7 linked regions of the Homo sapiens genome follow. The protein of the gene in region 1 purifies or fractionates together with the protein of each later gene. This does not show direct contact. Each region holds a gene or a part of one and is shown in the gene's direction. Other genes may lie near its edges. The genes, in order: PTPN22, SPTA1, ACAD8, GLUD1, CALU, SLC25A19 and SFXN4.

Region 1 (3,500 bases):
GGCAGGAAGAGAGGTGGAAGAGAAAAATGAAGCCTGCCGGGCGCGGTGGCTCATGCCTATAATCCCAGCACTTTGGGAGGCCGAGGTGGGGGGATCACTTGAGGTCAGGAGTTCAAGACCAGCCTGGCCAACATGGCGAAACCCTGTCTCTACTAAAAATACAAAAAAAAATTGGCCGGGCGCGGTGGCTCACGACTGTAATCCCACCACTTCGGGAGGCCAAGGCGGGCAGATCACGAGGTCAGGAGTTCCAGACCATCCTGGCCAACATGGTGAAACCCCGTCTCTACCAAAAATACAAAAAATTGGCCAGGCATGGTGGCGGGCGCCTGTAACCCCAGCTACTTTGGAAGCTGAGGCATGAGAATTGCTTGAACCTGGGTGGCAGAGGTTGCAGTGAACCGAGATCATGCCACTGCACTCCAGCCTGGGCGATAGAGCAAGACTTTGTCTCAAAAACAAAAACAAAAACAAACAAACAAAAAAACAGAAAGAAAAAGGAAGACTTCACAGTGGTATGACCTTAAGATAAGATGTTTGAGGGAAAAAAATCAAATCTTTCATACATTACAAATGAATAATTCTGTAGGCATTTCCTGTGTGATGTTTTGCTAAGAGTGTCTGCTTTTGTCATCCAGCTAGATTACTCGAGGGGGAGGAAAGGAGTAGGAAAAATGAAAGCCATTCTGCCTTATTGTTGAAGGTAGCAGTGAAGGCAGCTAAACAAATATAGGACACACATACACACACACACCCATCACCTTTATCTGTAACATTTTGCCAAATTAATTGAAGGATATCTTACGCAAAGGGCTTTGTGTATAGCATTCTCCCTAGAAAGCGTTCCACAAGCAAAATAAAACAAAAATAAATAAAAACAGTATAACAAGGAGTATGCACTGAGCTTAGTTCTGGAGACTCCTAGAAGAAACTGTTCTGGGACTTGAGATCTTTTCAGCAGCCCTGGGATCAACAGCAACCTGAAAATGATCATTCTGAAGTTGCTTAAGAGCAGGGAGATTTGAAAAATTGGTGTAACTTCAGCTGAAATTCAGCCTAGTCTTTCATGTGTCCTTAAATTCCCAAATTAGTCCACTTGTATCCATATCCATCTTGAAGTAAAAATATGCTATAAAGATAGTTCAGTAGCTTCTTGGGGTTCAAAGTTAAACAAACAAACAAACAAAAAGATATCAGTTCAGTATCTCTCCTCTCAAATCCAGTTCTGAAAATCCAGAGGAATTCAAACTACAGTAGGCTCTCTTTATATACGGAGGATGTGTTTGAAGACCTATAGTAGATGCCTGAAACTGCAGATAGTACCAAATCTTACGTACACTATGTTGTTTTTACCTATACATACATATCTATAATTAAGGTCAATTTATAAATTAGGCACAATAAGAGATTAGCAATAATAGCTAGTAATACAATAGAACAATTATGATAATCTACAGTAATAAAAGTTATGTGAGGCCAAGGAAGGTGCATTGCTTGAGCCCAGGAGTTTGAGACCAGCCTGGGCAACATGGTGAAATCCCTTCTCTACTGAAAATATGAGAACTATCCAGGTGTGATGCTTGTGCCTGTGGTCCCAGCTTTCAGGAGGTAAGGCTGAGGTGGGAGGTGAGGCTGAGGTGGAAGAATCACCTGAGCCCAGAAAGTTGAGGCTGCATTGAGCTGTGGTCAAGCCACTGCACTCCAGCCTGGGTGACAGAGTGAAACTTTATCTCAAAAAAAAAAAAAAAAAAAAGTGACTGCTTTTGGAACTGAAATCTTTGAAATTTTGCTAGATATAGAGAAATTTTATTCAGCTTAAGCTCCACTTCCACTTAGAAAAAAAAGCGATCTGAAGTAAAAAGACTAATAGAACTTAATTATTTTCCAGTTGACCATTTAACTAAAAAGCAGTTATAAAGAAAGTAAATTAAGCTTTTAATATCTGCCCATTGGGTGGAGCATATAGCTTGCTTCCAGAAGATATTTGGTTCTTAAAATATTCACAAGTTTCACTTTTAAGTTCACGCTATCTATGGCTCAGCTGCAGTAAGTGTGATCTTTTCACTTCCCCAAATGTCACTGAACTCAGGTCTCCTTATGCTCTGCAGCTCTGTCCTGAACGGAGTCAGAACCAGAAGATAATAAAAGGGTTGAGGTAGAATGTTTTGCCAGTGGAAAAGGAAAGCTCTTTAGAGATAGCTTCTTACCTCATTTCTCTAGGAAGATTAATTTTTCTTGGAATCTTATTACAGAAGCTGAAAAGGCAATCTACCAAGTACAAGGCAGACAAAACCTATCCTACAACTGTGGCTGAGAAGCCCAAGAATATCAAGAAAAACAGATATAAGGATATTTTGCCCTGTAAGTTCCATTTCTCTCTATAAACTCATACTTTCTCCCAAATTCAATCATTACTATCTCTTTGTACCCATTGCTTACTGATCCTGATCTTGGAACATGGCATTGACAACTTAGTTTGTACTATTTATGACTGCAAAAGAATATTCATTCATTCATTCATTCATTCACTCACTTGTTCACTCATGAGCATACACTATTCACAGTGTTAGGCCCTGATTTAAATCTGCTGACTAAGCCCTCTTAATTGTACTATGTCTGTCTTTTGTATTATAGATGATTATAGCCGGGTAGAACTATCCCTGATAACCTCTGATGAGGATTCCAGCTACATCAATGCCAACTTCATTAAGGTACAGTGAAAGAAAATAAAAGCATTCCATATTTCTCTAGATACCCAAAAAAAGGGGAGGGCTGGCTGGACTCAGTGGCTCATGCCTGTAATCCCAGCACTTTGGGAGGCTGAGGCGGAAAGATCACTTGAACGCAAGAATTTCAGACCAGCCTGGGCAACATATGAGACCCCATCTCAACAAAAAGTTAAAAAATTAGCCAGGTGTGGTGGCATGCGCTTGTAGTCCCAGCTACTGGAGAGGCTGAGGAAAGGGGATTGCCTGAAGCCAGGAGGTCAAGGCTGCAGTGAGCTGTGATTATGCCACTGCACTCCAGCCTGGGTAACACAGTGAGACCATCTCAAAAAAAAAAAAAAAAGGAAGCGGAGGACTAGGTGAGAACAGGGTATTATTTGTAGTCACCCCGTGTAATTTCTGTTCCCCTTTAGGGAGTTTATGGACCCAAGGCTTATATTGCCACCCAGGGTCCTTTATCTACAACCCTCCTGGACTTCTGGAGGATGATTTGGGAATATAGTGTCCTTGTAAGTATGGTGTTGCTTTTGTTACTTTATTCTCTACTTTATTAAAAACAGTGCTTTTAAAAAATTGGTCAGTGGAACTTCAGGGTTCAGGCATCTTTTAGTCAGAATCACAATGCCATTCTTGTCCAAGGAAATGAAAGTTCTCAGCCAGGTGTACTCTGGGAGGCCAAGAGGGGTGGATAGCTTGAGCCTAGGGGTTCTAGACCAGCCTGGGCAACATTGCAAAACCCTGTCTCTACAAAAAATACAAAAATTAGCTGGGAGT
Region 2 (3,500 bases), about 45 Mb from region 1:
GATCCTAGACCAGTGCCTGGAGTTGCAGGTACAGCAAATTTCCCAATTGTTAAGCAGGTTCAGTAGTCTGTTTCTCCTATGCAATTTCATATGGTCATTACAGGCTCCGTTCACTAGACTTTCCACGTTATAAACACAAAGGGAGCTCATCTCTTAATTACCTAGCATTGTACTATGCTTTCTATACCGATCATTGTCATATTCTCTGCTCTTTCTTGTTAGAAGAGCCAAACAAGATGGTGATCAGTCCTGAGCATGAGGTGGGTTGACTATCATTTGTTGATTGACTGAGGAATTGATTGGCTGATTTTTGTTGAGACTCTACTCTGTGGAGGCTCGGAGTGCCACAAAGATTAGTAAGATAGTTTCCCATTTCTTAAATAGTGAAATTAGACATATAGATAAATTTTACTAGTACAGTGAGATGATTATTAATAAACCAAAATGTACGAGTGCTTTGAGGCTAAAAAACAAGAAGTGATTAAAGCTTTTGGGGGAAGTAAGTGGTTGTGTCACAGGCTACCCTGAAGGATAACGTTTCACAAAGTCTTAAGGAAATGACCAGCCAGTATTAACAAGGTTTAAGAAATAGGAAATAGCACCCCAGGAATTGGAGGTAGCATATACAGAAACATAAAGTGTATGTTTGGAAAAGAGGAAAAGTTCCAGTACAGCTAAGATTTGTCACATGAGTGTTTCTTGGAAGATGGTAAGTACTCCTTGCAAAACCCTTTGTGTCATGATCCTGAAAGAGGTGTAACATCATTTCCTCCACACCACATGGACTATACCATACCCCTCTCATTTGATTCCTCATAGATGTTCCAGGGGAACTGTGATCAAGTTGAGAGCTGGATGGTGGCACGTGAGAATTCCCTGAGGTCAGATGACAAAAGTTCCTTAGACAGTCTGGAGGCTTTGATGAAGAAACGGGACGATTTGGACAAAGCAATCACTGCCCAGGTAATAATGACTAGTAAAGGAATTAAAATAATAATCCGTAGTAATAATAACAGAAATCCTACACATTTGTCTGGTTTTATAATTTATAAACATTTTGATTTACTTTTTTTTTTTTTGAGATGGAGTCTCATTCTGTCACCCAGGCTGGAGTGCAGTGGTGTGATCTCGGCTGACTGCAACCTCTGCCTCCCGGGTTCAAGTGATTCTCCTACCTCAGCCTCCTGAGTAGCTGGGATTACAGACACCCACCACCATGCCCAGCTAATTTTTGTACTTTTAGCAGAAACAGGATTTCACCATGTTAGCCAGGCTGGTCTCGAACTCCTGACCTCAAGTGATCTACCTACCTCGGCCTCCCAAAGTGCTGAGATTATAGGAGTGAGCCACCGTGCCCAGCCCTGATTCTTGTTTGCTTCTTACAGAAAAACTGAGGCAGGCAGGGCAGCTTGACACTTGACATTGTTTCACCCAAGTCACAGGCAGCAAGCAGACTCTCTTACTTTAAATCCAGCATTCTAAACTCTGACTTTTAGGATTGATTAAATAGTCATTTCATCATCTCACTCAATAAAGGATTCACCCTCTACAATGGTCATGAGAAGTGTCTGTTCTTTAGGGAACTCTGTACCACACAAGTAGCCCATTATTAGATGTTTCTCCTCCTATTAAGTTGAAACCCACCTCCCTGTAAGGCATATATTATTTGACCCTGAGTATATCTTCTGAATCCACAAAGGATACCTTCATTCTTTTCTAGGAGGGAGTCTGGGATTGCACCAAGAGCCTAATCTCCAAGCATCTGGGCTCTTTCCTTTTCCTTTATTTAGGAAGGGAAGATCACTGACCTAGAACATTTTGCTGAGAGCCTCATTGCTGATGAACACTATGCCAAAGAAGAGATTGCTACGCGGCTCCAACGTGTACTAGACAGGTCAGGCCTGAGTGATTGTTTTATGTGCCAAAGGAAGATATAGCAAACTGACCTTTTTGCTAGCATTGAGATGGGGGAATACTCTGGCTTCCTGTCATTTCTAGGTGACTAAAACTATCTTGACACCTATGCAGACTTTCTGACTTAGATTTATAGAATGAAAGACATGAAAGATGAAAGATACCTTAGAAATTAACTGGCTTTAGCACTGCATTTTATAATGAAAATAATAAGACTATGTGAGAAGAAAAGAGGCATGTTGGCAAATGGGAAGATTTATGGATATGGCATCAGAGCATGGGAAGGGTGGAGGAGGGCATAGAGTGATTTGGCTCCGTCCTCTAGGTGGAAGGCTCTCAAAGCACAACTGATTGATGAGCGGACAAAGCTTGGAGACTATGCCAACCTAAAACAATTCTACCGAGACCTTGAGGAGCTGGAAGAATGGATCAGTGAGATGCTGCCCACAGCCTGTGATGAATCCTACAAAGACGCCACTAACATTCAGGCAAGTTCAAAATAGGAATCTTGGAAAATTTCACCATTCCGAGCTTGTTGGTTGGATAGTCATCACCCTTGATACTTTAACACTTTCTGACTGTTGAGGCTACCATGCCTGCTCTCAGAGACTTCAGAGTCTGATGTGGAGCAGGTTCTTCAGAAGTCACCGTCACCTCAGTTATGATAGAAATATTAGCCCTTCCTTTTAAATACAATTTACCTTATCTTGTCACCATAAATAAAAAGATAATATAATTTCTGTTTCATTTTCCCTTCAGAGGAAATACCTGAAACACCAGACCTTTGCACATGAAGTCGATGGCCGATCTGAGCAGGTGCATGGCGTCATCAACCTGGGGAACTCCCTGATTGAGTGTAGCGCTTGTGATGGCAATGAAGAGGCCATGAAGGTAAAGCTCAGGATGAGTTTTGGGCTACAAAGTCACATGAAGAGGAATCATTTACTCTTTCTTTTTTTTTAATTTATTGTATTTTTTTTAATTTTATTATTATTATACTTTAAGTTTTAGGGTACATGTGCACAATGTGCAGGTTTGTTACATATGTATACATGTGCCATGTTGGTGTGCTGCACCCATTAACTTGTCATTTAGCATTAGGTATATCTCCTAATGCTATCCCTCCCTCCTCCCCCCACCCCACAACAGTCCCTGGTGTGTGATGTTCCCATTCCTGTGTCCATGTGTTCTCATTGTTCAGTTCCCACCTATGAGTGAAAACATGCGGTGTTTGGTTTTTTGTCCTTGTGATACTTTGCTGAGAATGATGGTTTCCAGTTTCATCCATGTCCCTACAAAGGACATGAACTCATCATTTTTATGGCTGTATAGAATTCCATGGTGTATATGTGCCACATTTTCTTAATCCAGTCTACCATTGTGGGACATTTGGGTTGGTTCCAAATCTTTGCTATTGTGAATAGTGCCGCAATAAACATATGTGTGCATGTGTCTTTATAGCAGCATGATTTATAATCCTTTGGGTATATACCCAGAAATGGGAAGGCTGGGTCAAATGGTGTTTCTAGTTCTGGATCCCTGAGGAATTGCCACACTGTCTTCCCCAATGGTTGAACCAGTTTACA
Region 3 (2,788 bases), on another chromosome or scaffold:
CTTTCTTCTGCAAACCTCATTCCAGAAAGATGTTTATGGGCTCAGTCGCCAGTGTTCAAACTGAATTCCCGAGAGTCGTTTTCCTTCCATTACTCTTGGAATTGCTTTCTCACTGAGCTTTATGTGCGTAGGAAACTTCGCCTTCATTCTAACTCTCTCTCCACCCTGCAATAATAAGCAGGAAAACATTTATTGTAGGCCACACCATCACCCACTTACAGAAGAATTGGGGCACTCATCACTGTATCACTTTGTTTCATCATGGACTTTACTGTTGGATAAATCTACAGTTTATGCTTTATTTGAGACGATGTGACTACTGATTCCTCGAGGGGGTTTATATTTCTTTTTGCATTAAAGGCCACTGCTAAAAATGAAGCAAATAATTGATACCCTCCTTTCAGGGAAAATGTTTTCATTCTTTTGTAAGTCAGTTTTCTGATTACCAAAGAAATGTGTATTTATTGTTGAAACCTTATAAAATTAGGAAAAGTAGGCTGGGTGCGGTAGCTTATGTCTATAATCGCCGCACTTTGGGAGGCTGAGGCGGGTGGATCGCGTGAGGCCAGGAGTTCGAGACCAGCTTGGCCAACCCGGTGAAGCCCCGACTGTCTAAAATTATAAAAAGTTAGCTGGGCGTGGTGGTGCATGCCTGGAATCCCAGCTACTCGAGAGGCTGAGGCAGGAAGATCGCTTGAACCCAGGAGGTGGAGGTTGCAGTGAGCTGAGATTGCACCATCGCACTCCAGCCTGGGTGACAGTGAGACTCCATCTAAAAACAATACAAAAAATTAGCCGGGCCTGGTGGGGCCTGGTGGCACATGCTTGTGGTCCCAGCTACTCAGGAGGCTGAGGCAAGAGAATTGCTTGAACCTGGGGGGCGGAGGTTGCAGTGAGCCAAGATCACACCACTGCACTCCAGCCTGGGCGACAGCAAGACTGTCTCAAAAGAAAAGTAAAAGAAAAAAAATCACTCATGTTTCTACATCCAGAATGTTATTTTGGTACATCTCCTTTTAGGCATTTTACTCTGCCTTTGTTGGTACATTTTTAATTTTAATTAGAATTATCCTGTATATACTGTTTTTATTCTGCCTTTTTAAACTTTATATAAGCATTTTTACCATCAGAAGAAGTTTTTAAAAAAGTATTATTTCCTGACATTTTTCAGTACTTTGTAGAGAAGTCTCTGATAATCTCATCTCTCCCAGGCTAAAAGCAATGATTGTAGTTTAAATCTGCAGCTACTCTGAACTAGGCCTGGAGCAGCCTGGTCAGAGCTTTACTAAACTCTCAGACTTTGCTGCTGTGAAATTCTTCCTCCTTCCTCCCTCTTACAGGTAGCAATGAAGTGATGAGGATACTGATCTCTAGAAGCCTGCTTCAGGAGTAGAACCCACACTTGTTCTGGCCTGGTGTTCAGTGCGACTGCAGTCAGTGTTGAGTGGTGCCATGTGGGCCGCTCTATTCCAAAGGAATCATGGATTAGACCCAAGGGCTGAGCTCCTCTAGGGCAGGACCTGCACCCTGTGTGTTGGCACCAGCATCGGGTCTTGGACTGGGGCAGAATCCCCAGTGGAACCGGAAGAGCTGGACTGATGAGAAACATCAGAAGAACACATACTACCTTGTTTTCCTAATGCCAGAAGGGTGACCAGTGAAGATTCACCGTCAAACCATGAAAGTCCTTTCTTGGATCCACTTTATCTTGATTAGTCTGCATTTTACTAGTTCACTGGATCCCTCCTCTAGGGGCCTGGGGACTTTCACTGATGCTCTTCCTGATTCTAGAGCAAAGGTGTGGGAAGGGGAAATGGAGGAATGCCCTCCTGTCTGTGTCGTTCTCTGTGCCACAGCTACAGATGCAGAAGGTTTCTCTGGATAGCACACCTCTGAATGTAAATCATGATAAAATGGATATTTGGAAACTTACTCCTAAGCTGTGATTTAGGGTGTATTTCTACTTCTGGACTGCCTCAATATCAAGGGCTGAGACTTTTGAATTTTGAATATTCGTTGGGTTTCATGTTAAGAAGCCTGTGGTCTAGGAGTGCTATTCAGTGTTTCTTTTCCTGATAAACACTTTGAATATTTTTTTTGTGTTTTTGTTTCCTTTTCTGAAGCTGTTCCTCCTTTTAAATATTTTTAATCACATTGATAAAATCTATCCTTCACCACCTCTGGTTCTACTATAGTTGATTTTTATTTTAAATGTTTAATTGTATTTGATTAAACACTTAACTGGATTTTGGAATAATAAAACTCTCGTCCAATTTGGCTTTTAAAAAGCAGGCTCCTTAAATTATTAATAACTTTGCAAACTAAGCATTGTTTATGATGTATGAAAGTAGAATTAAAGTGAGATTCACAGATGGGACTTCAGGAGACCTTGTTTTGTTTGTTTGTTTGCTGTTTTTTGTTGTTTTTGAGACAGAGTCTCGCTCTGTCGCCCAGGCAGGAGTGCAGTGGCACAATCTCAGCTCACTGCAACTTCTTCCTCTGGGGTTCAAGCGATTCTCCTGCCTCAGCCTCACAAGTAGCCGGGACTACAGGCGCAAGCCACCACGTCCGGCTACTTTTTGTATTTTTAGTAGAGACAGGGTTTCACCATGTTGGCCAGGCTGGTCTCAAACTCCTAGCCTCAAGTGATCTGCCCACCTCGGCCTCCCAAAGTGCTGGGATTACAAGTGTGAGCCACTGTGCCCAGCCAGGGGAGCTCTGTTATAACTTACTATGTTACTCCATCCCCTCATCCCTATTGAAAAGAATACGCAAGACATTAACTACA
Region 4 (3,500 bases), on another chromosome or scaffold:
CACCCTTTTACCAACCTTCAGCTTTCTGTATCTCATTTTCCCTCAAGAACAACCTTATCCCTGAGTTTTCTAAATTAAAATTCTTGAGGTTGAAGCAAAGCAACAATCTAGCAATAATCTCTAAGGGAAACAGATGGTTATAAGACTTGGTGGCTGATGTGTACTTTTTCCAAGTAAATATTTAATAATACACACTGTTTTTGTGCTTTTCTTTTCCCAGTTACTACATGTACCTGAGGCCGTTAGATTTGTCTGTGTTAAGGATTTGAAAGGGTAAGCTAAAGGATCTGAAGGGAAGTTTAAGTGAGGCCTTAAAAATATTTCCAGCAAAGGGGCATAGTGTGAGAATATGCGACTGATTTGAGAAGACTGGTTCAAAAGTTCTGGTGGGTTTGGAAATATTATCAAAGATTGTTCTATTAACTTTCCCAGAGTAAATTATCTGTATTTCATTTGCTATGGTTCTGCCTGAGACCAGTCTACCTTTTTAGAAGGAAGTTTATTGTTTTAAAGTCAGTTTGGAGGGAAAGTACAGATTGATAATAGCAATTTATTGATGGTAGGAGTCAATTAACTTTCTCTTCCAGTCTGCCCCCCCCCAGTTGTCTTGATATTAAAACTATTAAAATTCCCTATCACTGATGCTACTATCATAAAATTTTCTAAAATTATCATAATTTACATATAGTTGATGGACCGTAGATGGAGTTCTCTCATACATTGACCCTAAGTCTTTTAATTACAAATATTAGTACCCAAAAAAGTGTACCCTATATTAATCCAGTAACTAGTTTTTAAAAGTCAAAATGCCAGAAGGAAACAGTGGAATCTTGATGACATAATGCAAGGGAAGACCGGAGTCAATGCAGTGTTAAAGACGCCCTCAGCCTCTGGGATGTCATTGTTTAGCGCTTAAGGGAAGACTATAGAAAGCACTGATACTGATTTAAAATGAGATATTTCTCTGCCTTCACTGGGGGAAAAAATGTTTCTGACTTATTTTGCTGTGCTCAATTGACAACCATCAAAACTTAGGTAACTTTTAATAAACTCACAGTTTCTAATATTTTTAAGTGGCTGTGTGTCTGCATCTGCTGCCACAGATAAAATATAACCTTTGTAGGTGAATTTAATTTAGGACTTTTCTGAAAGTTCAGTCAGAGGATAGGTAATTTGTGTGTCTTTTAAAAGCACTTAGCCCCGAGGTTGTTGTTTTTAATACATCTTATTTAAATACGGAAATGTGTTGCCCTTATGCCTTTTTATTTCATGGAAGCCAAATGCGTCTTTTCTCCCAAAGTATACTAGAAAATGAAGACGCTTGGTAATGGTAGTGATCTGTACATCAGATTTCAGTCTTTCTGTCACTTGCGTGTATGAATCCATTTAGCAAGTTTGCTTTTGGCAGTAAAGCCCCACGTGCAGGAAGACAAACAGCTGCTCACTCATTATCCAAAGTATACTTTGTAAGAATTAGGGCATCAAAAATTGGATCCTAAGCACCAATATATATTAAAGTTCAGTACAACTTGTAGTGTTTAAGTACAAGAAATAAAAATTGAGCCTGAACTTTTGGCATATAGTGGGAAGAAATTAGGTTTACCGCTGTTAATAATTCAGAGTGCTTAGGAAAATCGGTTTTTATTTACTTATGTTAAAAATACTAAGGGTTCTGTAACCATTAAAAACTAAAATACTAACCTGTAGATGTTGAAAAAATCCTAGACACTAGTCTCTGCCACGTGACTGTTCTTCTTTTCTATTTATTTTACCCAATAATTAGGCTTTTACAATGTAAGTAATAAAGAGAAAAATCTCTAGTATCACTTTAGAGCACATTGATTCATAAATAGCCCATAAATTTTGTACTCAGCAACCCATAAAATACACATGCATGATTCACATAATCAAATAGTAACGAAAGTTACAAAATGAAAAGTGAAGCAGCTCTACCCCAAGTCCTTCCCCCAATATAACCATGAACAGTCTTAAATCTAATGCCGCTGTCTAAAACTGACTAGTTATTCAAATGAATCAATATTTTCCCCTTTCCAGAGGCAGAAATTAATACAGATTCAAGTGTTCACTATCAAGTCGGAATTGTTAATATGTGAAATACTACTGTTAAAGGCAGGAAAGGCTTTATTAAGGACAAGAAGACAAACTAGGAGAAGGAGCTACTCAAGACCTTCCGATTATCTTTACAAAAAGGCAACTACACCTAGAAGATTCTGCAGCCACACACATTCTGCCTTCACTTGAGGTCAACTGCCTTCACCAAGGTCAGATATTAGCAAAGGCTAACATTTATTCAGCTCTGTGTGTGCCAGGCATTTTATTAAGAACTTTTCATGCATCATCAGTTCTATGCCTTATAGCAACAATGCATGTAAGAACTTTTCATGTATCATTGCTTTTATGCCTCATGCAATACACTGTTGTCCCTGATTTCCAAATGTGGCTACTAAGGTTGAGGAGTGAAGTGTCCTTTGGCAGGGTGACACAGCTAGTACGTAGTGGAGTTGAGGTTCAGATTCTGGGCATCTGATTCCAGCACCCACCTTAATCATTGTTGTCTGGGATTTATTTATGCAAAAAGTTACAAATTGTATCTTAGGCTTTTAATTGTAAGCGCTGATTGAGAACCACTTCATGCCATTGACACAATGCTTCCTAATACTTTGGATCATAGATACCTTTGAAATTTCTGTTAAAAGCTATTAGAAGACCTACCTTCTTCCTAGAAAAATACATATTCAAACAGCTTTGCATATAAAACTCAGCATAGATGATATCTCTAGAGGTCCATTTATTCTAATTGCTAAGGAAATGAAATAACCTTTTTCCCCTACACCCAACTCCGAAGACCTGAAATAACATTTTAAACAGTTTTCCATCAAAAGAGGTTTGAAGACTTTGGTGTTTAAGAGATTAATGTGTTAGCCAGAACAACTCATTTCTCTACCAGTGTGTAGTCCATTTATCTTTAAAGATTTTCTATTGAATAATTTTGAAATTACTTTCTTAGTTTTCTTCATTAAAAACTAAGAAAATGCTTTGTTTATTATGAATTGCTATTTCTCTTGATTATTATTCTTGGAGAAAGTCTATCAGACGTAATTCTTCTGATTTGCTTCTAGGCTAGAGGAAAATGTGAAAGATGACAAATGAAAATTTCAAAGGTTGTCAGTAGTATGACTTCTTTTATCGTTTGTCATTATCACAAATATATCAACATAGGACTTTTAAAAGATATTTTGTACATATTGGGCCTTAGTAGGATTTTGCATGAATTTTTTTTTTCTTTTATGCCAAGAGAGAAAGAGCAAAGAAATAACCAAGGGTGATGTACTCGTATTGAAGGTTTACCAAATAAGGACTGCTTTTATTATGAACTATAGTCTATATTCTAAGTAAATCAATTTTTCTATTATGTGTTTTTTGTTCCTGCAGGCAAGATCTCTGAACTTTATGCAGAGGGTTCTTTTAAAAAAACAAAG
Region 5 (3,500 bases), on another chromosome or scaffold:
TCTCTACTAAAAATATAAAAATTAGCCAGGTGTGGTGGCATGTGCCTGTGTAATCCCAGCTACTCAGGAGGCTGAGGCAGGAGAATCGCTTGAACCCAGGAGGCGGAGGTTGCAGTGAGCCGAGATCGCGCCACTGCACTCCAGCCTGGGCGACAGAGCAAGACTCTGTCTCAAAAAAATAAAGTAAAATAAATAAAAATAGAAATTCAAATAGTTTATCATGGTCACCTAGCTTTAAAATGCGCTTACGTTGTAGTGTATTGTGTATTCTAGCTTCCTTTAAAACCATATCTTTTAAGCATGTGTCTATTTCCTAATTCAGAACTTTCCAATCTGTATCCTGTGAGTAAGTCTTCTTGGCTTTCAGGACAGCTAGGGCAGGAACCTGATCCAGTGGACCGTACAAACTACATTTTCTGAATGTGCTGTAGCATGGGAAAAAATTGGCAAGTCCTGCTGTGAGGAATTTCTCTTGTGAGTTTAAGACAGAGGAGTACTTCTACCCTTAACCCTCAAGGTCAGGAAAATGGCAGCACTGACTAAATAATTACCTTTGCTTAGAACTTGCAGGAACTATTTAGATTTCTCTTTAGGTGTTTTCCCATACCTTACATGCAATGCAGGTACACTTAACTTAGATGTCGTATAACTCAAGCATTTTCAGACTTGTTCACTTAAATAACTCCTGAAAGAATTTGACCAACAGCATTCCCTTATGTGTTTTAAAGTTGGCATCTGAAATATTTAATTAAGAAATTTAAACAGTTGTAAAGAATAGTCTCTGTTGGGCCGGATGCCGTAGCTCATTCCTGTAATCCCAGAACTTTGGGAGGCTGAGGCAGGTGAATCACTTGAGCCCAGGAGTTTGAGAACAACCTGGACAACATGGCGCAACCCTGTCTCTACAAAAAATACAAAAAAAAAGAAAAAATTAGCCAGGCATGGTGGCGTGTGCCTGTAGTCCCAGCAACTCAGGAGGATCACTTGAGCCTGAGGGTTTGAGGTTGCAGTGCACCGTTATTGTACCACTGCACTCCAGCCTGGGCAACAGAGCAAGACCCTGTCTCAGAAGAAAAAAGAATAATCTCTGTTGGTGATAAGCATTGACATTTTGAAAGTAATTCGGAAAGAAATCTATAAAATTTAAATACAAGATACCATAGCAACTTCTTACCTGCCGTCTTTCATATGAATAATTTGGACACGACAACTTTAAAAAGATAATCAAGAAATTTAAATTCAGTCTGGGTATTAGATGATACCAAGGAATTGATTTTGTAAAATATGAAAGTGGCATTGTGGGTATATAAGAAAATATCCGTAATTTTTTACATTTCATAATAGTTAAAAAGGAAATGTTTCTTTGGTACTTTTTTTTTTTTAGTTATGGCGTTTGGTTAGCAACAATGTGACCATCACTTAATTGCCCTTTTTTTTGTTTAAATTTATAGGGATTTGGGGATATTTATACTACTTATCAGTCACCACATGATATTGTCTTAAAAAAATAAATGAATAAACTGTTAACCAACTTGGACATTTTACACGCATCCTGTTTCTTCTTCTTCTTCTTTTTTAAAAAGACAAGAGTCTCATTCTGTTGCCCATGTTGGTGTGCAGTGGCACAATCACAGCAGCCTCGATCTCCAAGGTGGGGAGATCAAGTGATCCTCTCACCTCAGCTGGGACCACAGAAGAGCACCACCACACCCAGCTGATTTTTTTTATTATTATTCTTATAGACATGGGTCTCCCTACATTGCCCAGGCTGGTCTGGAAATCCTGGGCTCAAGAGCTCTACCTGCCTTGGCCTCCCAAAGTGCTGGGATTACAGACATCAGCCACCCGACCTCCTGTTTCTTTTTTTTCTTTTTCTTTTTGAGACAGGGTCTCACTCTGTCACCTAGGCTGGAGTGCAGTGGCATGATCATGGTTCATTGCAGCCTCGATCTGCTAGGCTCAAGCCATCCTCCTGCCTCAGCCTCCCGAGTAGCTGGGACTGTAGGTGCATGCTGCCATGCCTGGCTAATTTTTGTATTTCTTGTAGGGATTTTGCCATGTTGTCCAGGCTGATCTCAAACTCACAAGTCAGCCTTCTATTTGTTAGATTCATTTGCAGTTTACTTCCTCAACAGAATTATATTCTGACATATTTTATCTTGAAGCCTTAGTCACTTTGACATTCTTATTTGCAAGAACATTGTGTATGTAAATTGAAATATGGAAAATGGTGTTCTGTGATATGGCTCTTAAGTGTTTTTAGAGTCTTCTGTGTTAAGTTACTATTACAATTATTAATACACAATTGAACAAAATAACATTTATTACAGACGTTTTATGTTTATATATTTTTAAATGCATTTCTTTGACACATTTTTATTCAAATAGTTTCATATCCATGGATGACAATTACTTATCCCTAGAGTGAAATGGGATTCAGCACCAATTCCTAATTTTTATTTTTTAGAGGAAGTACTAACAGACCTTGTTTACATTAGTAAATAAGTTGATGGAAGATTTGTCATAGCAATATTGCTTAGTTCTTGGAACTCCTTTTGAGTTACATGCCAGAAATCATGTAATCTATCATCAAAAATTATGGGTTTTGTTTGTTTCAAGGTGGAGTCTCTCTCTCTCACCCAGGCTGTAGTACACAGGCACGGTCTCGGCTCATTGCAACCTCTGCCTCTGGGGTTCAAGCGATTCTCCTGCCTCAGCCTCCCCAGTAGCTGGAGATTACAGGTGTGGGCCAGCACGCCCGGCTAATTTTATTTTTTATTTTTAGTAGAGACGGGGTTTCACCATGTTGGCCATGCTGGTCTCAAACTCCTGACCTCAAGTGATCCACCCGCCTCAGCCTCCCAAAGTGCTGGGATTACAGGCATGAGCCACTGCACCCAGCCCAAAAATTATGTTTAATGATCCCTTAGCTAAAACTCAATTAGGCCATTTTTCAAGGTTTTTTTTTTTAAAGCAAAGAATTTAAAACCTTTTGACATGCAAACGAATTTATTCATTTTTTTTCAGGCATTTGCATTCTCAAGACTGACACTAGTATTTCTTTTTCTTTTTTTTTTTTTTTTTTTTTGAGACGGAGTCTTGCTCTGTCGCCCAGGCTAGAGTGCAGTGATATGATCTCGGCTCACTGCAACCTCTGCCTCCTGGGTTCAAGTGATTCTTTTGCCTCAGCCTCTCGAGTAGCTGGGATTACAGGCACGCACCACCATGCTCAGCTAATTTTTGTATTTTTAGTAGAGATGGGGTTTTGCCATTTTGGCCAGGCTGGTCTCAAATTCCTGACCTCAGGTGATCTGGTCTCAAACTCCGACCTCAGGTGATCTGCCTGCCTAGGCCTCCCAAAGTGCTGGAATTACAGGTGTGAGCCACCACGCCCATCCAGACACTAGTATTTCTAATTGTTTCTTTTTCATTATCTTGGAGCTTTTTACACTCTAGTTTCAAAATGGTTGAAAATATGCCTTTCTTTTATAAAGTGGGAC
Region 6 (4,083 bases), on another chromosome or scaffold:
CTGACCAACATGGCAAAACCCCATCTCTACTAAAGATACAAAAAATTAGCTGGGCATAGTGGTGCACGCGTGTAATCCCAGCTACTCGGGAGGCTGAGGCAGGAGAATCGTGTGAACCCCAGAGGCAAAGGTTGCAGTGAGCTGAAATAGCACCATTGCACTCCAGCCTGGGCGACAAGAGCAAAACTGTCTCAAAAAAAAAAAAAAAAAAAAAAAAAAAAAAAAAAAAAAAAAAAGAAGAACATTTCTTTCTTTCAGAAAAGTGTAAACACTAATTCATATTTGATATTAAAAGTTTTTTTGGGGGGTCGGAGTGACAGTTTTGTGTGTGTGTGAAGCATAATGTATACGTATTAAAAAGGGAATGCTTGTCCTTTAAAGACACATACTGAAATATTTACTGGTGAAAACACGTGATGGTATTTACTTCAGAATAACGCTGGGCAGCGCGTGCGAGGTAGGTGCAGAAATAGAGGAAACAAGATTGCCCCATGAGTCGCGTAACTGCTGAGGTCGGAGAGCGACTCTACGCGGCTTCATCGGGTTATTCCACTTCTGTGTATCTTGAAATTTTCTACAATAAAAATGTCTTAAAATTGTGCGTCAAAATGATAACACGAATATAAAAATGCAATTAAAAAGTCAGGAGGCAATACTGTCGCGCAAAACCGTGACGCTAGTTGTGTGCGGGCGGTAGGATGAGTCATTTCCTCCTTCCTTTCTATATTTTCTGTCTATATACTTTTAATATTACTTTTATAATGAGAAATACTAAAACTCGGGGTGAGAGGGGGGGACACTCGTGTTTTTGCCTTCCCCGTCCCCGAGGGGACTGTTCTCATCTATTCTCTTCCCGACGTCCTCCAGCTTTTTGCTAGGCTTCCTGCCATCTTTACCAAGTTGAGATTATCCGGGTTCTGGCATTAACAGAGTTTGAGGAAAGCGGGTCAAGTCTACCGCGCCCTAACCTTGGACCCCGCCTGCAGGCTGACTTTCGAGTCACACGCCAGAGCACGGCGACCCCTAAGGTCGCAGCCCGGCTTCGCAAGGCACCTCCTTCTAACGCGTCGGTCGAACTCGCGCGCCCGCGAGCAGCCGGACTACATCTCCCAGGAAGCTGTGCGCCGTCCAGCTGTCCTGCCCTTGGTCGCGAAGGACTACATTACCCGGTGATATCTTGCGGGAGGCGGTTGCCAGACCTCAAGCGCACAACCATTGGTCCAGCGTCTGGCGGGGAGCTGCACGGTGATTGGCCCAGGAGCCCGCCAGTTTCGTCCGAGCTCAGTAGAGTTTTGCTGTTAAGACTGCGCGAGGAGCTAGAGAGAGCGGAGAGCGCTGAGCCGGGCCGCACCCGCCGAGCCGTGTGAGTAACCTCTACCTCCGTCCTTCTCGCCGCCCTCTCGGGGACCAGCACCCTCGCTCCTCAGGGTGGTCGGGAGGGAGCACACGCACCCGGGCGCTCACGAGAGGGCGGGGACTGTGTACACACGTGTCACACCAGACCAGAGAAGCATCTCCAGGGACACCGGCGGCCGAGCCCCGCGCACGCCCTTGAGCACCTGAGCTCCAGGGCGTCCCCTCGGACTCAAGGAGAAAAAACACACCCCGAGGCACACGTGGACACCTAGGTACCCACACGGGGACCTCTGCAGATTTGCTCAGCTGAGCCCTTGGGCACATGGGCACCCGAACACCAGGAAGAGCCTGGTATGCTCCGGTCTCCTGACAGCGATCCAGGACACCTGCCACTCGGGCTTGCTCCTCCTTTCTGCCCAGATGGGCGGGAAACACGCTGCTCAGTGTGACCTGAGCGGTCCCTGGGTAACCCCTGGAGAGGTTTTGCCTCTCAGTCGCTTGCCGCGTGTTTAAACTTCCTCATGGGCGCCTGGGGAGGAGTTCCAGGGTGGGTGAGAGGAGAAAAGGAATTGATGTCTGGGGTGGAGGCTGCCATCCTGTAGGTAGTATCTCCCCTCCTCCCCCACCCCCACCCCCACTACTACAAGTATTCAAGAACTAGGGTAATTCTGAAGGCTAGTTTTAGGGATTTTTTTTTTTTTTTTTTGCCATAACAAATTCAAACAGTATAGAATTATCGACAGGTCTACCTTCCTTTTTCCCTTCTCAGCCCTTCTCCCTGTGATCAGTTACCAACTACCTGTTGATGTGTGTGGTTACAGACTTCTTTCTATGCTTTGTACAACTCTACAGACCGTATGTAGGTATTACTGTTTTTGTTTTTTGTTTTTACAAAAAAGGAAAAAAGTACATCTCCTGGAAGGGATGCTTTTTAGCTGAGCTCTGGTGGATGAGAGGAGCTAGCCTTGAAAAAGTGAGTAGGGGCTGAGAGTGGGGCTGTATTTCAGACGTAGGGAACTGGAGGAGTAGAGGCAAGGCAATTGATAGGAGTGCTCCCCGAGTTTTCCAGGAACTGGGCAGAAGCAGTCAGACCACTCTGGTTAAATGAGGGAAGGGGAAGAGTGGTCCAGAGTGAGGCTGAAGAGGTCAGTAGGTCTGAGTCAGGGGAGCCCAGGAGCGTCATTTTCTTTTTTGTTTTGTTTTGTTTTTTTGTTTTTGAGACGGAGTCTCACTCTGTAGCCCAGGCTGGAGTGCAATGGCGTGATTTCAGCTCACTGCAACCTCTGCCTCCCAGGCTCACGTGATTCTCCCTCCTCAGCCTCCCAAGTAACTGGGATTACAGGCGCCCACCACGACACCCAGATAATTTTTGTATTTTTATTAGAGACAGGGTTTCACCATGTTGGCCAGACTGGTCTTGAACTCCTGACCTCAGGCGATCCACCCGCCTCGGCCTCCCAAAGTGCTGGGATTACAGGCGTGAGCCACGGTGCCTGGCCAGGAGCATCATTTGCTAGCGTAGCATGGCCCCACTGTGCCGGGGTGGTCTGAGGTGTGTGCAGGAGGGGAAAGGGAAAGGTGAAGGGGCTCAGGGCCTCAGGGCTCTTCCTTTGGACAGTGGGGGATTGTTAAAGAATCCCAATCCCTGTTCTCCAGCCCTGCACGTCCTTCAGTCCCTCAGCGTTACACTTGAGTGGGCTCACTCAGTGAGCAGGAGTTTGCTATAAAGTTGCCAGATGTCTTGGAAAACCAGTTGATCTCTGGGACCAACAATTGCCTATCAAGCCTGTTCATTCGATTCTCAAATATTATTAAGCACTTACCATGATGGGCTCTATTCCAGGAACCGGAAATTTACGAGTGAACAAATGAGACCAAGGTCGTGTTTCCACGGGCTTACATTCTAGTCAGGGAGAGAGACAAGAAACAAATGTACTGTATAAATAACCCATGGCGTGCCGGGCGCTGTGGCTCATGCATGTAATCTCAGCAATTCAGGAGGCTGAGGCAGGAGAATCACTTGAGGCCAGGAGTTCGAGACCAGCCAGGGCAACATTGAGACCTTATCTCTACAAAAATAAAAAACTTAGCCAGGCCTGCACCTGTTAAGTGACAGCTAATTGGGAGGCTGAGGCAAGAGAATCACTTGAGCCCAGGAGTTCAAGGCTATGGTGAGTTATGATGGCACCACTGCATTCCAGCCTGGGCAACAGAGTGAGACCCTGTCTCTAAAAAAGTAAACAAATATGCCATAGTAATAAGTACTGTAAAGAGGAATAAAACAAGTGCTATTTTATTTTATTTTTAAATTTTTGTATTTTTTGTAGAGTTGGGGTTTTGCAGTGTTGCCCAGGCTGGTCTTGAACTCCTGAGCTCAAGCAATCCACCCACCTCGGCCTCCGAAAGTGCTGGGATACAGGCATGAACCGCTGCGCCCAGTCCAAAAGTGAGTGCTATTTTAGACAGTCTAGTCAGGGAGGGCTGCTCTGAGGAGGTGATATTTGAGCAGAGACCATAAGAAACTTGCCTGGTGTTTATTCCGTATCTCTTGCATTTAGCTTGATACTGATGGACATTGTGTGGGCCAGAGGCAGGGATGGTTGGCTATGACCCCAAACCAGATGGCAGGAATAACACCAAGTTCCAGGTGGCAGTGGCTGGGTCTGTGTCTGGACTTGTTACTCGGGCGCTGATCAGTCCCTTCGACGTCATCAAGATCCGTTTCCA
Region 7 (3,500 bases), on another chromosome or scaffold:
TTTTTCAAACAGCTTTATTGAGGTATAATTTACATACTGTAAAATTTACCCATTTGTAAGAGGATAGTTTGATGAATTTTAGTCAGTTTAAAACAGTTGTGCAGCCAGGCATGGTGGCTCACTCATGCCTGTAATCCCAACACTTTGGGAGGTAGATCGCTTGAGTCCATGAGTGCGAGACCAGCCTGGGCAGCATAGCAAAACCCTATCTCTACAAAAAAATTTTTAAAAAATTAGCTAGGCATGGCGGGGTGCATCTGTAGTCCCAGCTGCTTAGGAGGCTGAGGTGAGAGGATCAACTGAGCCTAGGAGGTTGAGGCTGCAGCGAGCTATTATCACACCACTGTACTCCAGCCTAGGTGACAGAAAGAGACCCTTGTCTCAAAAAATAAAACATAGGCCAGGCGCGGTGGCTCACGCCTGTAATCCCAGCACTCTGAGGGGTCTGAGGCAGGTAGATCACCTGAGGTCAGGAGTTTGAGACCAGCCTGGCCAACATGGTGAAACCCTGTCTCTACTAAAAATACCAAAATTAGCCGGGCATGGTGGCTCATGCCTGTAGTCCCAGCTACTCAGGAGGTTGAGGCAGGAGAATCACTTGAACCCAGGAGGCAGAGGTTGCAGTGAGCTGAGATTGCGCCACTGCACTCCAGCCTGGGTGACAGAGAAAGACTCTGTCTCAAAAAATAATAATAATAAATAAATGAAACAGTTGTGTGACCATCACCACAGTCCAGTTGTAGAACATTTTCATCATCCTAAAAATGTCCCAAATGCCCACCCCCACCCCCACCCCCAGCCCTAGGGAGGCACTGATCTGCTTCTTTTTTTTTGTTTGTTTGTTTTGAGTCAGAGTCTCACTCTGTCGCCCAGGCTGGAGTGCAATGGTGCGATCTTGGCTCACTGCAACCTCTGCCTCCCAGGTTCAAGCGATTCTCCTGCCTCAGCCTCCCAAGTAGCTGGGACTATAGGTATGCGCCACTGCGCCCAACTAATTTTTTGTATTTTTAGTAGAGACGGGGTTTCACCATGTTAGCCAGGATGGTCTCGATCTCCTGACCTCATGACCCACCCGCCTCGGCCTCCCAAAGTGCTGGGATTACAGGCGTGAGCCCCCATGCCTGGCCACTGACTTGCTTTTCTGTCTTCTTAGTTTTTGCCTTTTCCAGAAATTATACATAAGTGAATCACACTGTAGTTTTTTGTGTCTTGCTTCTTTCACGTTTGAGATTCATCCGTCTTGTACCACATGTTGCTCATTTGTTACTTTTCATTGCTGAGTAGTATTCCGTTCCTGGATGTGCCGCATTTTGCTTATCTATTCTGCCGGCGGTGGACGTTTGGGTTGTGTCCAGGCTTGGGTTATTATGAATCAGGCTGCTCCGACATTCACTTGCACATCTTTATGCATATGTGTGTTTGTATTTCTCCACAACTCCATGTGAACTTAAGGTGTTAGTATTGCTCTGACCTATTCATAAAGCTGGAGAGGAGAGTGAGAGCACATTTTTTTAAGTTCGTTTATTTATTTATTCATTTATTTATAGAGACAGAGTCTCCCTCTGTTGCCAAAGCTGGAGGGCAATGGTACGAACATGGCTCACTGCAGCCTCAACTTCCTGGGCTCAAGCGACCCTCCTGCCTCAGCCTTCTGAGTAGTGTGCACCGCCATACATGGCTAATGTTAAAAAAAAAAAGTTTGTAGAGATGGGGTCTCGCTATGTTGCCCAGGCTGGTCTCAAACTCCTGGCATCAAGTGATCCTCCTGCCTTGGCCTCCCAGAGCGCTGGGAGGTGTGAGGCACTGCACCCAGCTTAGAGCAAATATCCAATGAGCAAGTTGTTCCCAGCACCTCCTGCCTGCCAGGCTTGGTGCTAGGCTCTGGAGACCCACACCCTGATCAGTGAGAGCCCCGTCTCCCCAGCAGCCCCAGCCTCCAGCGGAAAGGTAGCCTCAGGCCTGACTGGCTGTCTGGAGTCCATCTCACCAGAAGAAACTTCATTTTTGGCATGAGGGGCATGTTAGGGTCAAAGAAAAGCTTTACTGGTCTACTTTAAAAAAAAAAAGGTCTTTTTTTTCTCTGAAGAATAAAGTGTCTGCAACTGTGCATAAGCATTCTTCTATCACTTCCCTGTCCCTGGAAGGTTATTTTCTTCGGCTAAAATTTCAGAAACTGCGTAACCAGCAATATCTGATGGTAACAGGGCACGGTTGGTCCAATTTCAGGTGACGCGTGGCTGTTGTTTCCCCCGACTGGCCCCATAAGCCACTGCTTTGCACACAGCGCCTCCTAATGACGGCGTCTCACTTGGAGTGTCCTCCCCACACATGGGACTAAGGGAGAGAGGCGGGCCTCGCCCCACTGATGTGGACACACAGCACACTAACAGCCATTTTTCCCTTCCGGAAGTCAAGCAATTTTACTTTATATCCCTGAGACTTTTATTTTATTTTCTTTTATTTTAGAGACTGAGTCTCGCTCTGTTGCCTAGGCTGGAGTGCAATGGTGTGATCTTGGCTCACTGCAACCTCTGCCTCCCAGGTTCAAGTGATTCTCCTGCCTCAGTCTCCCGAGTAGCTGGGATTACAGGCGCCCACCACCACGCCCGGCTAATTTTTGTATTTTTAGTAGAGACAGGGTTTCACTATGTTGGCCAGGCTGGTCTTGAACTCCTGACCTCAGGTGATCTGCCCACCTTGGCCTCCCAAAGTGTTGGGATTATAAGCATGAGCCACCGTGCCCGGCCCTTAAGACCTTATTTTAAAAACAGCCCTCCTCGGCTTCCTCTCTTTTGTGGGGGGGAAAGGCATTCCCTGCAGAGGGAACCATGCAAGCGTGACTGTCACCCACAGCAGGGCAGAGGTGCAAGCAGAGAGCAGGGGCCGGGTGGTAGGAGGAGCCTGGGAAGGTAGGTCAAAGCCAATCATGGGAAGCTGGAAGTGGAAGGAACAGAGTTCAGGGAAGGACGGGCGCAGGTGTGCCTGCTCCTCTTGGGTACACGATGTGCTGTTTGTGGTGTGTGTGTCTTACCCAGGGGTGGGTTCTAAAGTTAACATGTTAGCTACTCAGGAGGCTGGGGTAGGAGGATTGCGTGAGGCCAGGAAGTCGGGACCAGCTTGGGCAACATAGTGAGATCACATCTCTACAAAAAATCGAAAAGTTAGCCGGGCCTGGTAGGGTGTACCTGTGATCCTGGCTACTCGGGAGGCTAAGGTAGGAGGATCACTTGAGCCTGGGAGGTCAACACTGCAGTGAGCCGTGATCACGCTACTGTACTCCAGCCTGGATGACAGAGTGAGACCCTGTCTCTAAAAATAAATAAATAAATGAAAGTAGTAAAAAAGTTAACGTGAGCTGTCTTATAGTCAAAATTTCCCTTACAAGTCCCTTAAAGTGCCCTTGAGGGTACATGGTTTTGTACATACTCACCCATACAGTAAATTGTATGTTTAAATGTTTAATGTATAGAGTAATGTACATTATAGAAAAGATTACAAAA

What was found.
Region 2: the proteins of PTPN22 (region 1) and SPTA1 purify together in Homo sapiens (affinity purification with mass spectrometry, with the first as the bait; one study listed by BioGRID). This does not show direct contact.
Region 3: the proteins of PTPN22 (region 1) and ACAD8 purify together in Homo sapiens (affinity purification with mass spectrometry, with the first as the bait; one large-scale study listed by BioGRID). This does not show direct contact.
Region 4: the proteins of PTPN22 (region 1) and GLUD1 purify together in Homo sapiens (affinity purification with mass spectrometry, with the first as the bait; one large-scale study listed by BioGRID). This does not show direct contact.
Region 5: the proteins of PTPN22 (region 1) and CALU purify together in Homo sapiens (affinity purification with mass spectrometry, with the first as the bait; one large-scale study listed by BioGRID). This does not show direct contact.
Region 6: the proteins of PTPN22 (region 1) and SLC25A19 purify together in Homo sapiens (affinity purification with mass spectrometry, with the first as the bait; one large-scale study listed by BioGRID). This does not show direct contact.
Region 7: the proteins of PTPN22 (region 1) and SFXN4 purify together in Homo sapiens (affinity purification with mass spectrometry, with the first as the bait; one large-scale study listed by BioGRID). This does not show direct contact.

Annotation. Positions count from the first base shown.
Region 1 is NC_000001.11:113,858,213-113,861,712, reverse strand, and holds part of PTPN22 (tyrosine-protein phosphatase non-receptor type 22), read left to right. Parts: intron 1-2,252; coding exon 2,253-2,361; intron 2,362-2,634; coding exon 2,635-2,711; intron 2,712-3,139; coding exon 3,140-3,235; intron 3,236-3,500. UniProt on the Homo sapiens protein: Acts as a negative regulator of T-cell receptor (TCR) signaling by direct dephosphorylation of the Src family kinases LCK and FYN, ITAMs of the TCRz/CD3 complex, as well as ZAP70, VAV, VCP and other key signaling molecules.
Region 2 is NC_000001.11:158,641,716-158,645,215, reverse strand, and holds part of SPTA1 (spectrin alpha chain, erythrocytic 1), read left to right. Parts: coding exon 1-28; intron 29-819; coding exon 820-963; intron 964-1,720; coding exon of another isoform or gene 1,721-1,790; coding exon 1,791-1,894; intron 1,895-2,239; coding exon 2,240-2,402; intron 2,403-2,673; coding exon 2,674-2,805; intron 2,806-3,500.
Region 3 is NC_000011.10:134,263,568-134,266,355, forward strand, and holds the end of ACAD8 (isobutyryl-CoA dehydrogenase, mitochondrial), read left to right. Parts: exon of another isoform or gene 1-378; intron 379-1,340; coding exon 1,341-1,393; 3' UTR 1,394-2,288; downstream 2,289-2,788.
Region 4 is NC_000010.11:87,088,344-87,091,843, reverse strand, and holds part of GLUD1 (glutamate dehydrogenase 1, mitochondrial isoform a precursor), read left to right. Parts: intron 1-220; exon of another isoform or gene 221-2,282; intron 2,283-3,500. UniProt on the Homo sapiens protein: Mitochondrial glutamate dehydrogenase that catalyzes the conversion of L-glutamate into alpha-ketoglutarate. Plays a key role in glutamine anaplerosis by producing alpha-ketoglutarate, an important intermediate in the tricarboxylic acid cycle.
Region 5 is NC_000007.14:128,763,359-128,766,858, forward strand, and holds part of CALU (calumenin isoform a precursor), read left to right. Parts: intron 1-3,500. UniProt on the Homo sapiens protein: Involved in regulation of vitamin K-dependent carboxylation of multiple N-terminal glutamate residues. Seems to inhibit gamma-carboxylase GGCX. Binds 7 calcium ions with a low affinity.
Region 6 is NC_000017.11:75,286,634-75,290,716, reverse strand, and holds the start of SLC25A19 (mitochondrial thiamine pyrophosphate carrier), read left to right. Parts: upstream 1-1,283; 5' UTR 1,284-1,363; exon of another isoform or gene 1,364-1,628; intron 1,629-2,125; 5' UTR 2,126-2,215; exon of another isoform or gene 2,216-3,802; intron 3,803-3,914; 5' UTR 3,915-3,952; coding exon 3,953-4,083. UniProt on the Homo sapiens protein: Mitochondrial transporter mediating uptake of thiamine diphosphate into mitochondria. It is not clear if the antiporter activity is affected by the membrane potential or by the proton electrochemical gradient.
Region 7 is NC_000010.11:119,148,715-119,152,214, reverse strand, and holds part of SFXN4 (sideroflexin-4), read left to right. Parts: intron 1-3,500. UniProt on the Homo sapiens protein: Mitochondrial amino-acid transporter. Does not act as a serine transporter: not able to mediate transport of serine into mitochondria.